Homo sapiens: one gene and its partners. The protein of the gene in region 3 purifies or fractionates together with the protein of the main gene of each other region. This does not show direct contact. Each region holds a gene or a part of one and is shown on either strand. Other genes may lie near its edges.

Evidence for each region.
Region 1: the proteins of DIDO1 (region 3) and FBP1 purify together in Homo sapiens (affinity purification with mass spectrometry; one large-scale study listed by BioGRID and IntAct). This does not show direct contact.
Region 2: the proteins of DIDO1 (region 3) and KCMF1 purify together in Homo sapiens (co-immunoprecipitation; one large-scale study listed by IntAct). This does not show direct contact.
Region 4: the proteins of DIDO1 (region 3) and MACROH2A1 fractionate together in Homo sapiens (co-fractionation; one large-scale study listed by BioGRID). This does not show direct contact.
Region 5: the proteins of DIDO1 (region 3) and MTMR4 purify together in Homo sapiens (affinity purification with mass spectrometry; one large-scale study listed by BioGRID and IntAct). This does not show direct contact.
Region 6: the proteins of DIDO1 (region 3) and SON fractionate together in Homo sapiens (co-fractionation; one large-scale study listed by BioGRID). This does not show direct contact.
Region 7: the proteins of DIDO1 (region 3) and PACSIN2 purify together in Homo sapiens (affinity purification with mass spectrometry; one large-scale study listed by BioGRID and IntAct). This does not show direct contact.

The regions. Positions count from the first base shown.
Region 1 is NC_000009.12:94,608,519-94,612,018, reverse strand, and holds part of FBP1 (fructose-1,6-bisphosphatase 1), read left to right. Parts: intron 1-1,957; coding exon 1,958-2,098; intron 2,099-3,500. UniProt on the Homo sapiens protein: Catalyzes the hydrolysis of fructose 1,6-bisphosphate to fructose 6-phosphate in the presence of divalent cations, acting as a rate-limiting enzyme in gluconeogenesis. Plays a role in regulating glucose sensing and insulin secretion of pancreatic beta-cells.
Region 2 is NC_000002.12:84,977,661-84,981,160, reverse strand, and holds part of KCMF1 (E3 ubiquitin-protein ligase KCMF1), read right to left. Parts: intron 1-3,500. UniProt on the Homo sapiens protein: E3 ubiquitin-protein ligase which accepts ubiquitin from an E2 ubiquitin-conjugating enzyme and then transfers it to targeted substrates, promoting their degradation by the proteasome.
Region 3 is NC_000020.11:62,888,506-62,892,005, reverse strand, and holds part of DIDO1 (death-inducer obliterator 1), read left to right. Parts: coding exon 1-19; intron 20-850; coding exon 851-1,046; coding exon of another isoform or gene 1,047-1,075; exon of another isoform or gene 1,076-3,500. UniProt on the Homo sapiens protein: Putative transcription factor, weakly pro-apoptotic when overexpressed. Tumor suppressor. Required for early embryonic stem cell development.
Region 4 is NC_000005.10:135,389,232-135,392,731, reverse strand, and holds part of MACROH2A1 (core histone macro-H2A.1), read left to right. Parts: intron 1-3,500. UniProt on the Homo sapiens protein: Variant histone H2A which replaces conventional H2A in a subset of nucleosomes where it represses transcription. Nucleosomes wrap and compact DNA into chromatin, limiting DNA accessibility to the cellular machineries which require DNA as a template.
Region 5 is NC_000017.11:58,490,639-58,494,138, forward strand, and holds part of MTMR4 (phosphatidylinositol-3,5-bisphosphate 3-phosphatase MTMR4), read right to left. Parts: intron 2,315-3,500; coding exon 2,204-2,314; intron 1,962-2,203; coding exon 1,873-1,961; intron 1,203-1,872; coding exon 1,025-1,202; 3' UTR 1-1,024. UniProt on the Homo sapiens protein: Lipid phosphatase that specifically dephosphorylates the D-3 position of phosphatidylinositol 3-phosphate and phosphatidylinositol 3,5-bisphosphate, generating phosphatidylinositol and phosphatidylinositol 5-phosphate.
Region 6 is NC_000021.9:33,567,038-33,570,537, reverse strand, and holds part of SON (protein SON), read right to left. Parts: intron 3,382-3,500; coding exon 3,271-3,381; intron 1,568-3,270; coding exon 1,451-1,567; intron 1-1,450. UniProt on the Homo sapiens protein: RNA-binding protein that acts as a mRNA splicing cofactor by promoting efficient splicing of transcripts that possess weak splice sites.
Region 7 is NC_000022.11:42,889,650-42,893,149, forward strand, and holds part of PACSIN2 (protein kinase C and casein kinase substrate in neurons protein 2), read right to left. Parts: intron 1,534-3,500; coding exon 1,298-1,533; intron 1-1,297.

The DNA of each region.
Region 1 (3,500 bases), on a different chromosome or scaffold from region 3:
CAACCAGCTAACTAACCACCTCCCCAGGTGAAAACTAGGAGGGGCAGGGAAGCGGTGGAAAGAAATGGGTTTGTGGTTTTCTGGTTTGTGGTTTTCTCATTTATATGAGTAGTTGTTATGCTTGAATGTGAAGTTCTTACACTTGAGTGTGAAGGTCACCCCTTCACATTGCATAGTGCAATGCAGATTCTCAGGCCCCGCCATGGAAAGTCTGACAGTGTGTCTAGGCTGTAGCCCCAGAATATGCATTTCTTTTCTTTTTCTTAAAGAGGCAGGTTCTCATTCTGTCACCCAGGCATGTGCAGTGGAATGATAATGGCTCACTGCAGCCTCGACCTCCCAGGTTCAAGTGATCCTCCAGCCTCAGCCTCCTTAGTAGCCACAGGCACATGCCACCATGCCTGGCTAATTAAAAAAAAATTTTTTTTCGTAGAGATGGGGTCTCCCAGTGTTGCACAAACTGGTCTCAAACTCCTTGCCTCAAATGATCCTCCTACCTTAGCCTCCCAAAGTGCTGGGATTATAGGGATGAGTCATGACCCCGGCTGTGAATGTGCATTTTTAATAAATATCCCAGGTGATTCTAATGCAGGTGCTCTGTGGGCCACCCTTTTGAAAGTTATGGGAAGAAATTACCTGGAATGTTTTGCTGGGATGACTTCCTTCTCCAGCTGCGTGATACAGATGCCCCTGCTTACGCTCAGCTGCAGGAATCTAGGAAAAGAATAAGTGAAGTTCGAGAAATTGCATATTTTTATTTCTGCTTAATTCAAGCAGAGAGTAGTTAAGCTGAAAGATTTGTTTGGGGCTGTCTTGATGACCAAAGAGGTCAATCCAGTGTTAATAAAGAAGATCAGGCTGGGCGCAGTGGCTCACGCCTGTAATCCCAGCACTTTGGGAGGCCGAGGCAGGTGGATCACGAGGTCAGGAAATAGAGACCATCCTGGCTAACACGGTGAAACCCCCTCTCTACTAAAAATACAAAAAATTAACTGGGTGTGGTGGCAGGCGCCTGTACTCCCAGCTACTTGGGAGGCTGAGGCAGGAGAATGGTGTGAACCCGCGAGGCGGAGCTTGCAGTGAGCCGAGATAGCACCACTGCACTCCAGCCTGGGCGACAGAGCGAGACTCCGTGTCAAAAAAAAAAAAAAAGAAGAAAATCATTAATAGTAAGAAATCAGTGGTTAGGAGCTGTCTCCTTAAGGGGCTCCCTTCCCTAGTGTTAGAAAAACTCTGGACCACATGACCCAGTGGGCTGTGTTTTTAATGAAAAAATGGATTACGGCACATGCCACGTTCTAAGTGTAGGTATTATTTTGGTAACTTTTTGGTGTGTGTGTGGGGGCACTGGTTTGTGATGTAAAATGTGCTTCTTCCCATGCATCACGGTTAAAACACTGGACAGCATCTGCTCTACCCCATAATGACTCTGGGGAGATATTCTGAGTTCCTACGTTTCTGAGAATTTCCCTGACGTGTGAGTGATATAGACCACATGCTCAGCAGAGTATGGGCTGCAGCGGCAAGAGCTCACAAAACTGATTTCCTCCGCAGACTGGCTGCCCTGCAGCCCAGTGTTAATTTATTTAAATAAAGATGGAGTAGGCAGGTGACAGAGATGGATGCCCGTAATAAGATTAAATTAGTGGGAACTGGCAAGAAGGCATGCTCTTTTTTGGAACTGATAGTGGAGAGATGAGGGAATATCACATTAGAAAAATTGGAGGAGGGCCCTAATTGGAAAGAGGAATCCAGATGCAGGAAATCTGGGTTCTGGTGGGAAGGCTGCCGTGATAATCTAATCAGGATATTGCTGATGTGTAGGGGAAGGCCCCTCTGGGAAGATGCCCTATTTCATTAGAAGAGCACCTTGAGAATGCCTCCTGTTAATGGTTGAACTGTAAAAAAGAATCACAAAACAAAACAAAAACATTCTTTGATTTCTTTCTTGCTCTAGAAATCAACTGATGAGCCTTCTGAGAAGGATGCTCTGCAACCAGGCCGGAACCTGGTGGCAGCCGGCTACGCACTGTATGGCAGTGCCACCATGCTGGTCCTTGCCATGGACTGTGGGGTCAACTGCTTCATGCTGGACCCGGTGAGAGACCTCACAGGAGGCTGGGGGCTTGGCTGGTGTCTGTGAGCAAATGAATGATATGTGTGGGGGATTGGCAGGGGTATGTGGAGGTGGGAGGTGATGCCCATGGAGGGACAGAGATGATGATGTGTGGTGGAAAGGGGGCAGGAGACCAAGAGAGAGTGTATGCCTCCCGAGCAGACTATGGAGGTGAGAAATGCCATCTCAGACTGGCACAAGAGGGGGTCTTTGTTCCAATGTGAATTCCTCAGAGCAGCTGTTACTCAAATGACCCAAATGCCAGGTCCAGGCAGGCCATAGGGATGATGAAGTGTGCTGGGGAAGGAAGGCCGGGGGGCAAGGGTGGAACTGGGGTGAACTGAAGAGTTCCAGCAATTACAATTGGGAGGAGGGGGCCCGCCTTGCCAAGGCTTCTATTAATGGTTCAAGAAACACTGGATTGTAAAAAACATAATGTTTCTGCATGTGTGCAACACTATGTTGGCCAACTAAAATGCATTTATGGACCTGATGGGGCTGTAGATATTCTGTTTGCCATAAACTGTATCCATCCATTTCTAGCTTTTCTACTTTAGTCACCAAAAGGCTGTTTTCCTGAGACGAATGGGTGTGCCAACTGAAGCAGTGGACGACATTGCTTCTTCAAAAATAGCTCCCACATTTATTCGTGTACATTTACACAAACCTTCAGTTAACTGGTGCAGTCTTTCTTTCTTTTTTTTTTTTTTTTCTGAGATGTAGTCTTGCCCTGTCTCCCAGGCTGGAGTGCAGTGGCGTGATCTCGGCTCACTGCAAGTTCTGCCTCCTGGGTTCGAGCGATTCTCCTGCCTCAGCTCCTGAGTAGCTGGGACTACAGGCGCCTGCCACCACACTTGTATTTTTAGTAGAGACGGGGTTTCGCCATGTTGGTCAGGCTGGTCGCGAACTCCTAACCTCAGGTGATCTGCCCGCCTCAGCCTCCCAAAGTGCTGGGATTACAGGCATGAGCCACCATGCCTGGCCAACTTTTTTAACTTTTAGAGATGTCCTCCTATGACATTAGTGAACTATGTGTAAAGTGCTTTTTGCTGGCAAACTGAACCCCAGGAACAGACAAGGAACAGGAACCTTCTGTGCGAGATAGGCTGCTGGAGGTGAGGCCGGGTCTGTGTGTGGCAGGAAGGCTAACTCAACACAGGCTGCCTTTGTCCCAGGCTGTCAGGGAAGTGGACTTTCACCTCCTTGGAAGCATGGGCACTTAACAAATAAACAAGGGTAGGGTAATAGCACTAGTTAAAGTCGCCAAATGTGGTGACCTGGGTAGGGGTGGGGTGGGGGAGTTAGTGGCAGAACCAGAGCAAAGTTCCACCTGAGCCCAGGATGGAATTTCGGGCACCACTGATGTTTGCTGACTGTGATTTGC
Region 2 (3,500 bases), on a different chromosome or scaffold from region 3:
GTCATGATATCAAGATGCTTCATCCACTTATTCTTCTGCTATTTCTTCTAGCTGAGGGTAATACAACTGACCCACTCTTCTGATCTCAGTTTTTTTTTTTCTAGTAGCAGTGATTAAGTTACAGGGATCCATCTATACTTCTTTGCCAGTACCCCCGTGGCCACTGGCAAAGTTTGATGGACTGCTGGCTGGCACTGTGGCCATAGAAGAGATGAGGCTAGGCTGGGTGTGGTGCTTCACACCTATAATCCCAGCACATTGTGAGGCCGAGGCAAGAGGATTGCTTGAGCCCAAGAGTTCAAGACCAGCCTGGATGACACAATGAGACCCTATCTCTACAAAAATTTCAAAAATTATTCAGGCGTGGTAGCACATGCCTGTACTCCCAGCTACTTGGGAGGCTGCGGCAGGAGGATCACGTAAGCCCAAAGGTTGAGGCTGCAGTAAGCCTTGTTTATGTCACTGGACTCCAGTCTGGGTGACAGAGTGAGACCCGGCCTCAAGACAAAAAAAAAAAAAGATATGAGGCTAATTGACTGTGTATATGAATTGGATGAACTCATAATTCTACTTTGCTACAACTCAGAGAGCCAACAACTAAAAACAATTCTACAGGCAGTTACCATGGTTAACAAACACCAAGAGGGCCATCAGGGATGTAGCAGAGAGGGAATGGTGGAAGGTGCCTAACAAGGCAATTCATTCATCTCTTGTTCATTTCATTGGGCAGTGTTTTCACTTCCTGGTACCCAGCTCTCAAGACATTCCATCAGGCGTGAGAGCTGGTTTTCTGTTTCCAACATCCTGTAGCTACAGATCCATTTCCAAGCTTCACACCCACCTTGCCTGTCTTTCCTCTGCCAACACCCACCTGGCCACTGGTCCTTACCAACCCAAGAACAGCCTATCTTTTCCTGGCTCCTCACTTCCTTCTCATGTAATCTAGGTAATATGTTCCTTTAGGAAACTGTCTGCCTTATCCCAGATCTTTAACATAAATCAAGACATGGCTAACATATAAAAATAACTGGCTGGGCGCAGTGGCTCATGCCTGTAATCCCAGCACTTGGGAGGCTGAGGTGGGCAGATCACCTGAGGTCAGGAGTTCAAGACCAGCCTGACCAACATGGAGAAACACCATCTCTACTACAAAAAAAAAAAAAATACAAAATTAGCCGGGCGTGGTGGCGCATGCCTGTAATCCCAGCTACTTGGGAGGCTGAAGCAGGAGAAACACTTGAACCCGGGAGGCAGAGGTTGCGGTGAGCCGAGATCGCGCCACTGCACTCCAGCCTGGGCAACAATAGTGAAACTCGGTCTCAAAAAAAAAAAAATTACCAAATTTTAAGATGCTCTGATCTGTATACTGCTTACGGGTTCTTTTCTCAATTTTAATGAATAACTTCAAAGACTGAAAAAATACCTTATAATTTTAAGGAAATGAAAAACATCATGGTCCTTAGCACAACACTAAAATTAATTAAAAAATTAATCTTCTATAAAAAAAGACTTTTATTAGGAACAGCATTCTACTTTTAACTTTTATGAATATGCAGTTTAGGGAGCGCTTCCTTTGAGTCCATATGCATGAAAGTAGCCCCACAGCTATATTTATAAAGTGATTTTTTTTTTTTTTTTAGACAGAATTTCGCTCTTGTTGCTCAGGCTGGAGTGCAATGGGTGATCTCAGCTCACTGCAACCTCCGCCTCCTGGGTTCAAGAGATTCTCCTGCCTCAGCCTCCCGAGTAGCTGGGATTACAGGCGCCTGCCATCACGCCCAGATATTTTTTTGTATTTTTAGTACAGATGGGGTTTCACTATGTTGGCCAGGCTGGTCTCAAAATCCTGACCTTAAGTGATCCACCCATCTTGGTCTCCCATGGGATTACAGGCATAAGCCACAGCGCCCAGCTCATAAAGTGATTTAAAAAACATTATTTCTAGGATAATTCAATGACAGCTTAGCCTTCACTAAAAACTTTTGGAGCTTCTAGTTTAAAAACAAAAAAAACATGGCCAGGCGCGGTGGCTCACACCTGTAATCCCAGCACTTTGGGAGGCAGAAGGGGGAATCACTTGAGGTCAGGAGTTCGAGACGAGCCTGGCCAATATGGTGAAATCCCATCTCTACTAAAAATACAAAAATTAGCCAGGCACGGTGGCTCATGCCTGTATCCTAGCACTTTGGGAGGCTGAGGTGGGCAGATCACCTGAGGTCAGGAGTTCGAGACCAGCCTGACCAACATGGACAAACCCTGTCTCTATAAAAACACAAAATGAGCCAGACATGGTGGCGCATGCCTGTAATCCCAGCTACTCGGGAGGCTGAGGCAGGAGAATCGCTTGAACCCAGGAAGTGGAGGTTGTGGTGAGCTGAGATCGCGCCATTGCACTCCAGCCTGGGCAACAGGAGCGAAACTCCATCTCAAAAAGCAAACAAACAAAAATTAGCCAGGCATGGTGGTACATGCCTGTAATGCAGCTACTTGGGAAGCTGAGGCAGGAGAATTTATTGAACCTGGGAGACAGAGGCCACAGTGAGCCGAGATCATGCCACTGCACTCCAGCCTGGATGACAGAGTGAGACTCTGTCTCAAAAAAAAACCCAAATACATTGTGCACATGTACCCTAAAACTTAAAGTATAAAAAAAAAAAAACCCAAAAACCAAAAGACAAAAAACCTAGGCAAATATATATGATAGATATCATAAAGTTGATGTTTTGAAAATAAGTTATGATGCATGGATTTCTTTTAAAAAGGTTGCAAAGCTTAATATGAAGGGGTCTGTTTAGTTATTTCACATCATAAGTTTCATAAGCTGCTACTGTGAAAAAGTTACCATCTTACAAGACTGCTGCTAAGGCTGGGCACGGTGGCTCATGCCTGTAATCCTAGCACTTTGGGAGGCCGAGGCGGGTGGATGACCTGAGGTCGGGAGTTCAAGACCAGCCTGACTAACATGGAGAAACCCTCTATCTACTAAAAATACAAAATTAGCTGGGTGAGGTGGCGCATGCCTGTAATCCTAGCTACTCGAGAGGCTGAGGCAGGAGAATCACTTGAACCTGGGAGGCGTAGGTTGCGGTGAGTTGAGATCGCCTCATTGCACCCCAGCCTGGGCAACAAGAGCGAGGAAAGAAAAAAAAAAAAAGATTGCTGCTAAAACATCTTAAAATCTCAGACTAAAAGGAATCTCTTCCAAATTGAGTTCCCAATTTGAAACAAGAACATGTAGTTATGTTTTACTACATTTTAACTTAAACATGAATATAAAAATATGGGAAAATGAGCTTCAAAATGAACTTTAAATGAAATTATGAAATCAAAGACCCCAGAAATTAAAATGTGATTCATTTTCCCATAAATTTACATTCTTATATATTCTCTATTGAAAGTCAAGGTAAATGTAATTTACGATTTATTCAAACTGAAAAAGTTGCTGGGCATGGCAGCTCACACCTATAATCCCAGTACTCGAGAGCTGAGGTGGGAGAATC
Region 3 (3,500 bases):
CAAGTCTTCTGTGTCTAAGGTACCTGCTTATAGTATAAATTCTGCAACCATGGAAAATTGTGTTGATTTAAACACATCTTTTTTTAACCTCTCGTTTGGATGGGTTAACACTTAAAATGTTAGCCTGTAGCTTACTAGATATTTCCAGGTGAATGTTAAAAATTAAGTTTTGCAGTGAGCCGAGATCGCACCACTGCACTCCAGCCTGGGAGACATAGCAAGACTGTCTCAAAAAAAAAAAAAGTTTACATAGTTGTATGACTGTGTGAAGGTGTCTGAGTGTGCCGCGGTAGAAGTTTGTTTCTGATTTATTATAATGTATGTGCGGTTAAATTTTAGGAAGAAATAGATACGTTTTATTTTCTTGTTTTTTTATGATTGAAGGAGCAGAAGGTGTCTTTTGCAGGGGTGATCAGGCTCAGGGCACTCAACCTGGGCTCTTGAACGGTTCTGGTTTTCTGGGACCCCCTGAGATTTAGCTACAGCTGTGCGTGTCTGTCTGTGGTTTTCTCTGGGGAATCTCTGTAGTCTTCGTCAGGTTCACGAAAGGGCTAGACCCTGTCGTCTAGTTTAACCCCCTCTAGGGAGGGGCACAGACAGCCATTGCAGATCATGCAGCTGGTTCCTCGTGACCGGGGCCGTCGTGCATGTAGGAAGAGCCGGCTCGGCTCCAGACACTGCTGGGCTCACATGTCACGTGAATTGCCTCACTGAGACAGCAGCTCTGTGAGATCGTGGCTGTGAGTCGGAGAGATCTGACAAGGTTTCCTGTTGAAAGCAGGATGTGAATTGGGCGTGTGATGCTTGAGCCACATTTTCTTTATGAGTGCTTCCCACTCTTCCATTGCAGGAGCTCTGTCTGATCCGCTTCCACCCCGCCACAGAGGAAGAGGAGGTCGCCTATATCTCTCTCTACTCCTATTTCAGCAGCCGTGGCCGCTTTGGTGTTGTAGCTAATAACAACAGGCACGTCAAGGACCTCTACCTGATCCCGCTGAGCGCCCAGGACCCTGTTCCATCCAAACTCTTGCCCTTTGAGGGACCAGGTAAGCGCCGGCTTTCTGGGTGGAGGTGAGGCCCACCTGCACCTGCACCCCTCCTCCCACTGACATGCCCTGCTGAGTCCTGACCAGCCCAGGGCTCTCTGGGAGCAGGAGTTAGGAGCACAGACGCAGCGGTTAGCAATAGGATTCATCTTTGAGGGCGTAGGACTGTGGCACGAGAAGTACCCCTGATTCACAGCATAAATTGTCTTAGGAGAGTTTTTTAGAGAGGGAAAAACCCACAGCCTGCAACCAGCTCATCTTGGCCTCAGGTCAGAGAAGACTCAGTGCCCAGAAGCCCAAGGCTCAGCCAGAAAGGGAGGTGACACTCCCAGCGGCCCTGCTCTTTCCTCTAGACAGACTCGGGAGCCAGCACACACCGGGAAGTGGCTCCATCAGGGATCACTTCTCTAACAGGGATGGATTTCCAGGAGACTTAACAATAATGACATAGAAAACTATTTCTAGAAATAATTATTTTAAAATCTGCAGCTCAAATTGTAATAGGTTCATTCATCTTTGGCAAGCTATTTTGTGTTTGCACGTTCCTTGGAAAGTACTGTATTTAAACGATTATTTACAAATAGCCTAAAATACATCTTTGTCAAGGGTTGAGGGTGATTCCAGGGGCCACGTGCTCTGTTAGTGACCAGCTCTTTCATAGCCCCTTAGAAGAAGCTGATGTGACTTCAGTTAGGGGTTAGTATCTGATGCCCAACTGAAGTGTCTCCGTGGCCATGCAGTCCCCAGAGGATTGGTGTTCTCTCAAAGCGGGTGTGTGGATCACACAGTGTCCTCTGAAGTGCTTCGTCATAAAGGCAGGTGCTGTCTGGACCCTGTGCCTCAGTGCCCTCTGTCCCTGTCACCAGGCCTCGGCGGGTGTTCCTGCCATAGCTGTGCAGGGTGTTCCCACCCACACCCCTCATGCCGCACCCTAGCTAGCTGGGGTCCTGTAGGGGCCACTCCACATCTTGGGCGGGACTTCTGTCGCCCCAGGCACAGCCCACGTTCCTACTGGAGCCCATTCTTCACAGCTGGAGTGGGCTCAGCCTATGCCTGTGTTGTGGAATTATATGTCCATAAAGGGATTGGTTGGTATCAGTAATTTCAGGGTTAAATATTTGCTGGCGTGGTGCATTAAATTATTTTAGTGCCAGATAAATTTTTAAAAGCAAAGTGCTTTAGTGTGTCCCCTCAAATCCTACTTGGGATAAAGAGATGCCACCTAATGGGTGGCAGAAAGGACCCTGGTAGAGGTTCTTGGTGTTGCTTGTGAAGAGCTCTGGCCAGCTCCACGTGACCAGGGAGAGGAAAAGCCCGGCCCTCCTGGAGGTGAAGACCGAGAAGCTGGCCTCTCCGCACCTGTGAAGACCCACTGGTCAGTTGCAAGTGCGACAGTGTGTGCACTCAGTGCAGACACTGCAGCACCTCAGCACCTCCCTACCGGGGTGGAAAGAGCACTTTTTCTTTACAGAAACATGATTCTTAGATAGCGAGCCTCCCCTTTTTAAAACAATTGAGGCGATATTTCATCCTTTCTTGAGCTTCTCTCCCTGCTCATCTCCAAACTTGGAGCTGTCAGGTGAGCACGGTTGTAGGGTGTTGAGCGAGCCCCGGCGCATGCCGGGCACCGGGTTCCCCACACTGGGCAGTGACGGGGCCCAGGGAGGCCACCAGAGGAGCGGCGCCTCCATTCTCCCCACAGCAAGGGCTGGCTGTGCAGGTGCAGCCCCGGGGCAGAGGGAAAGGACAGGTCTCCCAGCACCTCCCGGATGGCACCGGGACAAGGAGGGCTGGGCTGGGGTCACTCACCTTGTCTGCTGAGTGCGATGGCACCAACCACCCACACTGTCAGCTCCGCGACCAGCTGGGGGAACGTCACACTCGCCCACCAAGGCACTTGCTGAGGCCACGACGCCGCCTGACGGGGACACACAAAAGCCCCAGGGACTTTGATCCACGATAAAGAGCAGAGGCGTCTGGGTAAAGTAACACAGGGCAAGGGACTTTAGAAAAGTAACAGCTAGTGAAACCTTTCCATACACTTCAGAAATGTTTTAACTTAAGACTTCAGTATAATGTTAACTTCTCCTGATGTCCTTGTTGACATGAATGCGTGTGCGTGAAATCTCACACACTTCCATGGTCACTAAACAGCCTTCACCCCGGGCCAGGCCATCGGGTACTCGGCCCGCTTCACGTACTGATTACTTGACTTGGCGTTTTCTAGATATAAACATGTACATGTGTGTCCTGGCTTTGTGGTGTAAATGTGTAGTGCGTGTGCATGTGCGCGCGTGTGTGTGTGTAAGGCTAGGTCCTGGCATGTTTCCCCTGTCTCAGCGGACCCTGTCCTCACGGAGATAGCCCAGAAGCCCTTGGACAGCACAGGCCACACCTGAGGGTGCTGATGGTGGTGACTCCACAGAGCTGTGGTCAGGGGTGAGCGTGTGCTGC
Region 4 (3,500 bases), on a different chromosome or scaffold from region 3:
CTTAATTGCCATTGGCCTCACAGTCACTCTCCCCCTTGTCATGGGTGCCTGACTGGAGCTACCCACACCTGCATAAACCTCTGAAGAGCAGGATGGACCTGGCACATTCATGGGTTTATCTGGAGACTGCACAACTATGAGTTGGTTTTCAAAAGGGTGTTTTGAAAACCACCACACATTGCTGGATGTCATAAGGCTTCATGGCTTAGTCAGAATTCTTTCATAGCTGTGGCTGCAGCTTGGGGAACTATAGTTAGAAGTGCAGGAAGAACATGGGGAGGGATAAAGTACAGAATCTCTGCAAGACAACCCCATTGGTGGGGAGACAGACTTGAGGCCGCTTTATTGGACAGGAGCCTGACTCAGAATGAGAAGTGAAGATGTTCTTCTGCCAGCAGGGTGGCACTGGAGGAGCTGTGATATTTCAGACCTTTCTTGGGATGAGTTGACTACAGTGCTTCACATCGAATGGCTTGCAGTTCAGTCAAGTTGGAGAGGCATGTGCTGGGATATATATACTATGGGAACATGGAGCAGTGAGCAATTCCAGGCTGTGGTCATGTCCACAAAGCCTCCATGGCAGAGGGAGGCTGTGAGTGTCAGTTCAGCAAGTTGACAAGAGGACAAAGGGCATTCCAGGCAGGAGAACTGCGTGTTCAGAGACATCCTTAACACAGTGTGACAGGCTCAAGAAGTCAGGGGTGGCCTGAGGCATGTGAGCCAGGGCTGGGGTGACAGGAAGCAGTGCCACCAAAAGTAGCTGAAGTATGCTGTTTGTGGCTAGCTCAGAAGCTCAGGCTGACAGGGAATCATCAGAGTAGGCAGAGCTGCTTCTGGTGTCCATGGATGAAGACTGGTGCGGTTGAGAATAGGTCAGAAGTAAAGAGGCTGAACCAACGCAGGGAGGGTGATGAGAAGAGGCCTGAGAGGTTCTGCAGGCGGTTCAGCAGAGCTTGGCTAATGCTTGGGTGCTGTGGGGTGGACAGAGAAGTCTGGGCCAGGTTCACTGCTGTTTGGCTAGTTTGGTGCATGACATTGCCACTGATGAGGCTGAGAGACCCAGAGGAGTTCAAGGCACCCATGGGACTTGTAAGTGGGCCCTTGCCATCAGCAGTCAGAACAGAGCTCTGAGGCTCAGCGGCCAGGTGTTGCACTGGCATAGAGACCTGGGAGTCACTGGCATGTTGATGTAAAGACTCAGCTAGAGTCAGAGGAGGGAAAGACAAGGAGCACCACTTTTAAGGAGTCAGCGTGTCTAGGACCTGCCAGGTCTCTGAGTGCTAACGGATCCTTTCTGGAGGAGACCACTGTCCAGTTCCCACATAGGCAGCCCCAGACATGCCCAGCAGGTCAGCTGGGAAACAAAGCTGAAGTCTGTGCTCTAGTAGGAAAAGGGCTGAGCTGCTGTTAATCATCACTGACCACAGGCCTCCCCTGCTGAAAGGGGGAGACATTCCGATTTAAAAGCTCAGTCCAAAGGCATCAGGTTGTTGGTCTGTGAAACACATTTGTAGTAAAGCAAAAGACTGCTAGGAAACCCAATGACAGCCTTGCCTGAAAACACAGGCACACATACATATACACATATCATTTCCTGCTCAGAGTGAGCACAGGCACCTTTTTGCAAGGAATGTTTTAAAATGGAGTTCATTGCAGCAAGGAAGGGATCCAACTAATTGTTTTGGAAAAACCCAGACCCTTCTGGGTCTCTCTAGCCCTCAGTGAGCAGTTAAGACTGGGTGCTCCTTGACAGGGCGCTCATGACAGAGGCCTTTACTCTTCTAACATCACTCCAGAGCCAGGGCCTCTGCCATCTTACCTCTGTTGGGCCTGTCTACACAGTAGCCCCAGAGTGCCCAGAATTCTGTTTTCTGTCCTCACAGCCATCTCTGTGGCTCATCCCAGATGATTTGAGATGCACCTGGGATTAGAGAGGTGTTAAGTGTGGACCGTGGCATGTCCTGACAATGTCCCTAGTATAGGTTGAGCATCAGAGTAACAGGGACTCCTATCCCTGTGGCCTCCAGTGGTCACAGCATTGACTGCTGGTGCTGGAAGGCCCCAAACACCATGGAGTGTGACGTCAGTTTATCAGTACATGGGAGACCTGCCCAGTTGGTTCAGTGAGCAAACATGTTCATAGGGAAGACTTTAGGGGGCCCCAGAACAGGCCAAGGCCCCTCATATCCCCTCTCCCAGCACCCTGCACTGGCCCTTTGAAGCATGCATTACGTTTATCTTTTAAATGACTAGGGGGTTATTTATTGTCTTTTTCCCCACCAGTTCCACAGGGACCACATCTGCCCAGCATAATACCTGAAGTGAATGCATAAATGAACAGGATGCTCCAAGTAAACATTCGAGACCTTGGATGGTGCTACAGTAGGAATACAGTTAGGGGCACCCCTCCACCCACCTGCAGTCTGATGGGAGAATGGGCACACGTGCATCAATGCTGTGGTGTGCAGCACATGGGGCCCTGAGGATGAAACAGCCAGATCTCAACATTTGGGAGGGCTGGCAGAAGGCAGAGGCAAGTGTGAGAGATAATGGAGGTCCCAGCCAAAGGGAACAGCTACTGCCCAGGCAGGGAGAAAAGAAGTGGAAGGGTATTTGGGGGGAACCTTGTGTGGCTCCCTGTTTGCTAGTTTAGACCACAGGTGGCCCAAGGCAAAGCTGGACATGTGTGCCAGGCCTAGATTTCTAGGGCATTACATGGCAGGCCAAGAGTCCTGGTTCTATCATGAGAATTGTGGCAGCCACAGAAAGCTTTCAGGCCAGGGCCGGGGCATGTTCAGGTGGGTGTGTACCCAGATTGCCCCACCCATGGGGTAGAGGGTGGATTAGAGGAGAGGGGGCTCTGGTAGGGAGACCTTTTCAGGAGACATTTGTGACCACTTGATTAAAATAGTGATGACCAGGATCCCATCACTGGAGGTGGAGAGAAAGAGCCCCACAAGAGGTGTAGAGGAGGGTTTTCCTCTGGACTGGGTGACTGGATGGGGATTGGGAGCAAGGAAGGAAAAAACACCTCTCTCTCTCTTCTCTAAAGATTGGCCCATCTGGTGGACTAGAAGTGCTCAGAGGGCCTCTTACTGCAACCTGACTATACACTGTACTGACTCCTGTAAGCTGTTCTTGCCTCTCACAGATAAAGAATCTAAAATAGAGACACTGCTTTCATCAGAGAATCTAGGTATCTGCCTTTACATCATCTTTTTAGGGGAGGGTGTCATAGCTGTTTTTCTTTTATGAAGCCTTTGGTAAGTTTATCAGCCCCAGTCTCAAGTGTATGAAAATGCAATTATTAAACAAGTGTATAGAATGTGGCCAAGAAATCCCATTTCCTTTTTCATCATGTGGCATAATGGCAAGGCACTTAAGTAAAATTGATGTCATGGTATAAATTGTGCAAAGCCAAGCCTTTCTTTTCAGGGATCAAACTGCTCCAGCGGAGTGCATCACCTGGACCCGGAGGGCCCTGCAGCTACAGACAGTGG
Region 5 (3,500 bases), on a different chromosome or scaffold from region 3:
TGTCAAGTGTTCAGGATAAGAAGCAATGTGACCCAGAGGAGGCATCAGCCAAGGGAAAGACAACATGGGGGAAATGGGCAATGGAACAACAACAACGAAAACCTTTGTTTTATTTTCATGCCAGGAGAGGATCAAGGTGTAGCTCCTGTGTTAGCACCAGGACAACTAGGAAAAGTCAGGTGCAAAGAGTAGGGCACAATCAGCAGATATTTCACAAGGATAATTTTTGCTTTTCCCTTCTCATTCTTCACAGTGCATAACTCAAGAGCTGCCACTGTGTAACAGAGACGACTGCCTTCACAGCTCAAAATAACTCAATGTTTGCCAGGACCGAACATCAGCAGAGTTTTCCTCTGCTCCCAAAAATGTCTCACTCCCTAGAACTGTTCCCCTAAACTGAATATTCACCAATGCTGGCTGATGAGCCAACTGAAAAATACATTGAAACCTCCACTTGCTGAGCCAGTCTTCAAACCAAACTCCACAGAAAGACAGTACTAATGCAACTAGAAGGAGTGCCTCTAAAGGCTGAGCCTTCATGCAGACACAGAGCACAGAGGTACAGGATATAGTTCATCTCAAATAGGACAGGAATTCCTACCTTGTATACTATAATCTGCTTTTGTCAAGGTGGAGGAGAGATGGGTCTGGTTATCACTTGGAGTTTGGTTATACATATGCCTTTCTATTGCTGTTTGGGGCACTTTGCACCAGGCAACATCTACGCAATCATCATCTTGTGACCTCCAGGAGAAAGAGGCTGGAGTCACCAACTCAACATTAAGCTTCCAGACCCTGGGTCTGGGTTAGGACCATTACCCCAAGGTGAGGGTATCACCAGTAGAGGACCTCCTGCTAAATTGCAATTCCTCTGCTCCAGTTTCATGATACCAAGGAGGATTTCTCAAGATGGTATCTCTGAGCTCTGTGATTTCATGAGCCACACCAAGGAACCTTCCAAACTACAACTGAAGAAGATCCTCCCTTCAAACCTGCTAAAATTGGACAGGTTTCTCCCCGGCATTCAACTGGAAGCTGTAGCAATGGGTTTCTTCAGCTGTTGGCTCATGAGTTCCCTGGCACGAGAGACTTGAATGTGTTCGTAACATGAGTTACAGACGAGAACTGGGTCATAGAGTTGCTGATCAGGAATGGGCAGCTTCAGGTGGCAGCATCCAGCACAAAATACATTCCCACAATTTCTGTCAAAGCAGAAAGAGGGAAGAGTTCATCAGAAATGCCAATATACTGGCCAGGCAGGGTGACTCACACCAGTAATCCCTGCACTTTGGTAGGCTGAGGCAGTAGAATCGCTTGAGGCCAGGAGTTTGAGACTTGCCTGAGCAACATAGCAAGAGCCCATCGCTAATAAAAAAATAATTAATTAATTAATATTAAGAAATGCCAATATACTGAGAATGAGTGATACTAAATGAAAAGTTGGGGACAAACAAAAATAGTTTCTATAAAGAGGTGTCCACTTCCAAACTAATTCCACTTAGTTCTATACATATGTATTACACTATTTTTGTTTTTGTTTTTTGTCCTTTTTGAGACAGAGTCTTGCTCTGTTGCCAGGATGGAGTGCAGTGGCGTAATCTCGGCTCACTGCAACCTCCAGCTCCCTGGTTCGAGCTATTCTCCTGCCTCAGCCTCCAGAGTAGCTGGGATTACAGGCATGCGCCACCACGCCCAGCTAATTTTTGTATTTTTAGTGGAGACAGGTTTTACCATGTTGGCCAGGATGGTCTCAATCTCCTCACCTCATGATCCGCCTGCCTCGGCCTCCCAAGGTGTTGGCATTACAGGTGTGAGCCACTGCGCCTGGCCTGCCCTGTTTTTTGTCATACTAAATCATACAAAACATCTTACCTGCAATGGTGTCTTCGTTTGGCCAACCAGAATTCACAGTCACAGTTATAGCAGTGTGATGCCATATGGTCTGGAACCCAGCGAGTCACCTAATAGAAGGCACAAAGAAAAATTCCTGGTCCTTGTTGACAGACTGGAAGAGCAACATTGCAATGAGGAAAGCACCCCAGCAGAAAGAGACAAGGCTTATCTTCATAACTGGCTACCATTTGCCTACCAGGCTGACACTCCTCTGGGGGACAGCTCAGTCTACAGCATGTCATTCATCTCTGGAAAATATGATGACTCACTGGCTCACGTAAGTACCCACCACATATGTGCCTAAACATACCTCAGTCTCTTTCTTATCAACAGGTTCCCAGCTTGCTTCTGAAAGGCAGTCTTCACTGTGATCAGAGCCAAAATCCTCAGTATCACTGCCATCTGACTCCTTCAAACATGTCTGATGAAAAGGCAAAGACAACAAATTATCTTCATCATCATTAACGCTTACTGTTTACCATGTGTCAGGCACTGTGCTAAGTGCATTACACACATGAACTTATTTCTTATGACAGTCTTACAATGTATACTACTAATATCCCCATTTTACAAATAAGAAAATGAAGCCACAGAGAAAGAGCTGATACGTAGTAAAGCTGGGATTTGAACCTAGTATTGTAGCTTCAGATTTACACTCTTACCGATATGCTACACCACAGCATAGAAAGACTCTTGTTATGTTCTAAACCAGGGGTTGGCAAGCTATGGCCCACAGGCCAAACTAGCCCACTGCCTGTTTTTGTAAATCAGGTTTTGCTGGAACACAGCTGCATTCATTCATTTACTTACTGTCTATGGCTGCTTTTTGTTTTGTTTTTGAGACAAGGTCTCGCTCTTTTGCCCAGGCTGGAATGCAGCAGCATGATCACGGCTCGCTGTAGCCTCAACATCCTGGACTCAAGAGATCCTCCCACCTCAGCCTCCTGAGTAGTTGGGACCACAGGCGTCCACCACCATGTCCAGCTAATTTTTTGTAATTTTTGTAGAGATGGGGTTTCACCATGTTGCCTAGGCTGGTCTCAAACTTCTTGGCTAAAGCAATCCACCTACCTCGGCCTCACAAAGTCCTAAGACTACAGGCGTGAGCCACAGTGCCTGGCTACGGCTGCTTTTGCACAATAGCAGAGCTGAGTAGTTGCAACATAGACGGTATGGCCCACAAAACCTAAAATAGTTATTATTTGGCCTTTTACAAAAAAAAAAAAAGTTTGCTGACTCCTGTTTAAAGCACCAGAGAAGTGAGAAGCAGGCAAGTGGGGAGCACCTTAACAGAAGGAAGGAAAGTGTCTGTGTAAATGGCAAGATACCATGGAGAGGAAGCTGGCTCCTAGAAGCTCCCCAAGGACTATGGTGCCAGAACCTGAGGCTGCCCAACACTGCACAGCCTATAGTCTTCATCTCTCACCTGGATTATTCCAAAATGACCTTACCAGCCTCCCAATCTGGGTCTCAACTGCCTCATTAAAATTGTACACTGTTGGGCCGGGCGCAGTGGCTCACGCCTGTAATCCCAGCACTTTGGGAGGCCGAGGTGGGCGGATCATGAGGTCAGGGGATCGAGACCATCCTGGCTAACACAGTGAGAC
Region 6 (3,500 bases), on a different chromosome or scaffold from region 3:
CTAACACCAACCCTCAGCAAACTGCAGAAATTGTAATTTCTTAATGAATCTAACTGTGTACTCACTATACACATCAGTGCAACTACTTCCCAAAAAAAGGCAGGCATAATGAGTATACATGATGTTTCATATTAATTTGTTAGTAAGATCAACAAAGATAAAGCTATCAAAATTGAAATAAATGTTACAAGATTAAAATACACAAAGCAACCAATGTCTCATTTTTCAGAAATTCAGCTCATTCACTGGCACTCATAGCAACTCTCTATAGGTAACCATCACGTTACTGATTACCACTAGACACCTCAGAGACTTTGAAATTCCAAAGAGTTACTTGCCCATGATTACACAAGGAGTCAGGAGTACAACAGGATAAAGAAACCTTCCCAATCCATTAGACCACGCGGCCTCCCAGTTTCAGCACTGCTATGCTGCCAGTACTCCTGTAACAAATTTCCCATCACCCATCCAACCAAGCTTTGTCCCTTCACCACAACGCGTTTCTTCAGAATGCCCTTCTTAGCCACCTAAGACTCCCCCAATGATGAGGCAGCCGTAGGTGGAGTTCACAGGTCTCACTGCAGAATCTGAAACCAGATGCACCTACATCTTCGTAGCACGAGGCGTCCATTCTCTCCCTTGATTTTAGGTCTTACATATCTGTTTTGTCATGAAATTAGTGGTTCTCAAATTGAGCCTGTGGATCACCAGAGGCCACTAGGGCCTAAATGGTGGTCCACAGATTAATCTCCATCCCATCCCCTTCACCACAGCCCACCCCACTCCAGCCATCCTCCCTCAGGCTTCCAGTCCCATGGCAAGATCACCACATGCAGAGCTAATACTAGGGCCTCCCAACCACTTGCTGTAACCAGCAGCTGACAACCAAAAGGTCCTGGGGCTACAGGTCACAAGAGGAGTGAGGAACGGGGGCCAAGAGATCTTACAAGAAGGCACAGGCACTAATGAAGCGGGTGGGGTGCGAGGGCAAAGGAATAGAGGAATGGAAAATTAAGGTGGTAGAGGGCTCTTGGGGGCAGTGATCCACTAAAAATAAACCTGTAATAAAGTATCCCATGATGAAGAAAAATTTGAGAACCACTGCTTTGAAATGATTAGGTTAGTAGTCCAGCAGGAACTGTGGAATATTCTGAACAGCACCTGATACACTATTAGCGTTCAAAATAAAGTTAAATCACCCCTTCAAAAGCAGCAGTAACAATTTTTAAAATAACCTTATAAGTTAGTGGCTCTTGAGCCACATTTATACATTTGCCATTTTCTCATGAATCCAGTCCGTCTTCAGTGTCCGCCCTGGAGCATATACACATAGCAAATTTACTTGGAACTTTGGTTAGAGTCACTGGTCTTTTCATGCAGTTTTAATAAACAGTTTCCAAAAAATTTAAACTTTTTGTTCGACACTTTCATATGTGCATATACTGTGTACCTTTTTAATCCAGGCTTGGGCACCAGTATTGGCCAACTGTTCTTGTGTCAAAACCTGTACTCCTGTACTTCCTGTGAACTGGCCAGGAATAGAGTTCAGCTGAGCCCAGGCATCAATCTGAAGAAAAGAAGTAGTCTCAGTTAACTAAGTAAAATTACCTGATTAAAACATCACTGGTAATAATTCACTAAAAATGGCTGAAAAGCAGACTTAAATATTTAACTTTTAAAACATATTTAACATTAAATGTTTGCCTAAACTTTCTAAAGAAGCAGTTTGACAACATTTAGTGAATCCCATTAATAAGATTTTGAAATGTATCTAAAAGCACAGCTACTAAAAAATACAGCTGTTAATATTCTTCAAACTATCACACAGATACACTAAAAATGCAAAAAAGAGCTCATATGACAATGGGTCCCCACCCTCCCTTCCTATCTCATACAAATGTATTGTAATACATGTCATGACAGCCTGGATTCTTAATTACTTCCTTTGAGACATTTATACAGACTAAATTCATGACACAGGTTTAAAGAGTTTAAATGTAGGAAACTGTCCACTTGAATACATAAACGACTATTTTTTTTTGAGATGGAGTTTCTCTCTTGTTGCCCAGGCTGGAGTGCAATGGTGCGATGTCTGCTCACTGCAACCTCCTCCTCCCGAGTTCAAGCGATTCTCCTGCCTCAGCCTCCAGAGTAGCTGGGATTGATTACAAACATGCGCCACCGCGCCCGGCTAATTTTGTATTTTTAGTCGAGACAGGGTTTCTCCATGTTAGTCAGGCTGGTCTTGAACTCCTGACCTCAACTGATCCGCCCGCCTCGGCCTTTCAAAGTGCTGGGATAACAGGCGTGAGCCACTGCACCCGGCCGTAAAACAACTTTTTAAAGAAGCTTGTATACTTTTTTTCAGTCACCAACATTTGTTGTGATAAAGATCAGCTGTCATTCACACAAATTAGATTTACTAAACACCTTGCACTGTCAGCAATGTATTTCCTGTCTGAACATGTACTTACTGATTTACCATAAAACAGTAGAAATGAAATGGAGAGGCTGTCCATTGTTAAAAGCACAGACTCCAGATTCAGATTGCTTGGGTTTGAATCCCAGTTCCCCCACTAATTAGTTGTGTGACTATGGATATCACTTAATCACTCTTTTGTTTTTTTTAGACAGTCTCACTCTGTTGCCCAGGCTGGAGTACAGTGGCGCGATCCTGGCTCACTGCAACCTCTGCCTCCCAGGTTCAAGCATTTCTCCTGCCTCAGCCTCCTGAGTAGCTGGCATTACAGGCATGCAACACCAAACCCAGCTAATTTTTGTATTTTTAGTAGAGATGGGGTTTCATCACCTTGGCCAGGCTGGTCTTGAACTCCTGACTCCTTGCCCCCACCTCGGCCTCCCAAAGTGCTGGGATTACAGGCATCAGCGACCATGCCTGGCCTTAACCACCCTTTACTTCAGTTTTCTCGGCTGAAATATGGCAACTATTAATACCTACACATTTCATAGGGTTGTAGGCACTTAGTTGTTTTTATACACCAGATTGTAAACTCTGTGAGGACAGGGAAATTTTTCTATTTTGTTCTCTCAAGAAACAGTTCCTGCCACATAGTAAACAATAAACATTTATTGAATAAATGATCAGGCCTCGAATCACTTTCATTTAAAATAAGACATTGAAAATAAGGTAAAGGATGTTACAACTCAACCATCTAGTTAGCAAAATTCTTATTTAGACATTAAAACTGGTACATTGGTGTGAGTTGGCTGATGGTAAATAATAATTTTTTTTAAAAAACTGCTACATACCCTTTCCTGAGCTCTATTTAACATGCTCATGGCTTCAAGATCAAATGCATTCTCACTGAGTCTTTTCTGAGCAAGTGCCCGTTCACTCATTGCTGTAGAGATGTCCACAGGCTAAGAAAGAAAACAGAGATAATTATCTCAAATTACCATAGTCCCCTAAATTCTGAAAAGTACTCATATCTTTAGTTGCTACATATCAAAAACAAAATAATAGTCTTATAATACTAATA
Region 7 (3,500 bases), on a different chromosome or scaffold from region 3:
AGAACATCTGGGTGTTGGGGGTGGCACATCTACCGTCTACTCCATTCCAGCTAGGAATGGGGGGCGAGGCTGCAGGCAGGGGCGGGGCACACAAGCTGAGGGCTGGGGTGGACAGATGACAGCCTCCAACTAGCCAAGGCTCGACAAAACTCAATGGCTTTGGTTGCTACTTTTAGAAAAACAGGTATCAATGTTTGAAATTTTGGGATAAAAACCTATGCAAGAGAAAGAAAAATGTAAACTAGTTCTTTCTATCGTCAAAGGGACTTGAAAAAAAAATAAAGTGAAAGCAAGTTTATTGAGAAAGTAAAGGAATAAAGAAAGGCTACTGCACACGCAGAGCAGCCAAAGGGACTTTTTTTTTTTTTTTTGAGACAGAGTCTCCCTCTGTCACCAGGCTGGAGTGCAGTGGCGTGATCTCAGCTCACTGCAACTTCCACCTCCTGGGTTCAAGTGATTCTCCTCCCTCAGCCTCCTGAGTAGCTGGAACTACAGGTGCCCGCCACCACGCCCTGCTAATTTTTGTACTTTTAGTAGAGATGGGGTTTCATCATGTTGGCCAGGATGGTCTCAATCTCCTGACCTCGTGATCCGCCTGCCTCAGCCTCCCAAAGTGCTGGGATTACAGGCGTGAGCCACCGCGCCCGGCAAGGACTTTTAAGTCTCCAGCAGACACTTCCCCAGGGTTGGGAGAAGTACTGTTAGTGGTTAAGAGCTTGGGCTTTGAGCTCTACCACCAATGTATGGTTCTGATCCTCAGTTACCAAATCTGTAAAATGTGTTGGTAGGATCAAATTTAAAGAATGCCCTGTAATTCCAGCACTTTGGGAGGCCAAGGTGGGTGGATCACCTGAGGTCAAGAGTTCGAGACCAGCCTGGCCAACATGGTGAAACCCCGTCTCTACTAAAAATACAAAAATTAGCAGGGTGTGGTGGCATGTGCCGGTAGTCCCAGCTACTCGGAGGGCTGAGGCAGAATTGCTTGAACCCAGGAGGCACAGGTTGCAGTGAGCTGAGATTGCACCACTGCACTCCAGCCTGGGAGAGAGAGTGAGACTTTGTCTCAAAAAATAAAAATAAAAAATTTAAAGAATGCACATAGAGCATTCAGCATCTTCAACCTGGGTAAATGTCAACTACCATGGGCTTCTAGCCTGAGGAGTGGCTTCATCTCTACCAGGTCTGGCCTCCTGTGCCTACAGCCAGTGGCAGGAAGTCCTAGGTGCAGGAGGTGGTGCTGCTAGTGGGGTGCCAGGCAGAGCAAGGCCGGGCAGGGAAGCCTGCAGGACAGATGTACCTCTTTCAGCTTCTTGGCCCAGGGCTTCTGTGCCTTCCGAAAGCCGTCCTCAGCTTCCTTGGTCTCCTTGAAGCCGCCCATCATCTGCTTGTGAAAGGCTTCCTTCTGCCAGTTCTTGATCTTCTCGAAGTCATCGTTCATCAGTGAGGCCTTCACCTCGAGGTGCAGCTCGCTCACCCTCTCTGCCTCGGACATGAAGGCCATCCAGGCCTTCTCCACGGTCCCGTACTGGGGCCCTGTGCAGGGGAGAGAAGCTGCGGGTCACTCAGCGCCGGCCATGGTGGGGTCTGCTCTGCTCACACCTCGGCTGTTCAATGTGGCCATTTAGACCACAGAGGGTTTCCTTTCAGGGTTTCAGATATTTTTCTCTCAGGGACTCTGTGCCTTTTTCAGTTCCCAAAGCTGAATTTGCTCTGCCCCTCGTGTTAGGAAAATTGGGGGATTACATGCCTTTCCTTTATTTTTATTTTTGGGATGGAGTTTCGCTCTTATTGTCCCGGCTGGAGTGCAGAGACGTGATCTTGGCTCACTGCAAACTCTGTCTCCCAGGTTCAAGAGATTCTCCTGCCTCAGCCTCCCGAGTAGCTGGGATTACAGGTGCCCGCCACCACGCCTGGCTAAATTTTTGTATTTTTAGTAGAGACGGGGTTTCACCATGTTGGCCAGGCTGGCTGATCTCGAACTCCTGACCTCAGGTGATCCATTCGCCTCGGCCTCCCAAAGTGCAGGGATTACAGGCGTGAGCCACCGCGCCCGGCCATGCCTTTCCTTTATTTAAAGCCACTGAACTCTATAAAAACTCAAATTTCCACATCTTAGAAGTCTTAATTTACTTAAAGGTGGCCAGAGAAGGGGGGACCTTCTGAAGTGAGCAGATGCTTCTCCCAGGTGTTGGGCACCCACCCACACCATGCCAACGCTTCTCCTGGCATGGCTCCTATCAGCCCTGCTTGGCCCCTGGCTAGCCCTGCACTGCCTTCCTCTGCAGGACTGTGTTCATTCACTCCCAGAAAGAGCCTGGCTCTGAGCACAAGCTTGAGAACACTGTGGAATGAGGACTGTCCCCTCAGCAGAATGGAAGCCCATCCTGCAGGAGGAAGGAGAGGAGGAAGCAGGAGCCTGCTCTGGACCAGTATGGCAGGAGGGGCTGAGTCGCCTCTCCCTACTCACTGTTCTCAGTCCCCGAGGCTCAGGAAGGAAGCCCTAATCCAGGCTGGCATTTCTATTCAGGGGGTAGGGTGGGGTGGCGTGAGGCTGGAGGGAGGGAGAGCCACAACGGAGCCGGGGCAGAAATCGAGAAGATCCATGGCTGGTCTTCAAGGTGGTCACAGGGACAGTGACCAAGTGCGCTGAGTCATGACAGAGGTGGGCTGAGGGGAGGGCAGGCTGTGAGAACCCAGAGGGGGACACGTGACTCTGGGGCTTGGAGACAACAGAGAACAGCCCCGGAAGTTGGACCTCTCTGTGCCTTCGTGTCTACAAAATGAGCACATTCCTGTCCTGTCCACAACGTTACAGCCAGACCCACAAGGTGAGGGTGGTAAGGGTGCTCTGTAAACCTCAAGCTCTGACTGACAGCTTGATCCTGGGAGAGGGGCTGCAGCAGGTGGAAACGAAATGACGACACTGCCACCGACCAAGGGAGCTGACCTATCCTAGGCCCCTCCTCTGCCACGTGCCTGCTCCACAGCCTGGGCACATACCCTGCCCTAAGGACTGTGCTAAGCCCACACAAACAACCCATGTCAGCATCACGGGAAAGGACAGGCAGCTGGACTAGACCTGGCTTGCTTGGGACCTGGCTCCCCTGATTGGCTGAGGACAGCTGGGGCTGAGGACAGCTGGTCAGCACAGGAAAGCCTGCCCCAAAACACACCTTGAGAAACCCACACTGCTCTGCTTCTGTGCCGGAAAGGCTGTAATCAGTCAAGTTCCCCTTCCCTGCTGGGAAGTGTGTTCTAAGCATGGCCCCTGTCCACACAACAGTGGCACTAATAAAGCTACAGAATCTTCTGAGCTTTTCGGTGGGGACAGAAGGGGGTGAAACCTCTGCCATACAACACCTGTAATTATTCCCTTAAAATGTAAACTCAGAAAGACTGCCAGGTGTTGCCAGCTAGTCTTATCTGACCTGCTACATGGCCAAGTTTAAAAATAAACAGCTCTCAGTGTTAGAAACTAAGGTGCCAAGCGGCAAGGCCTT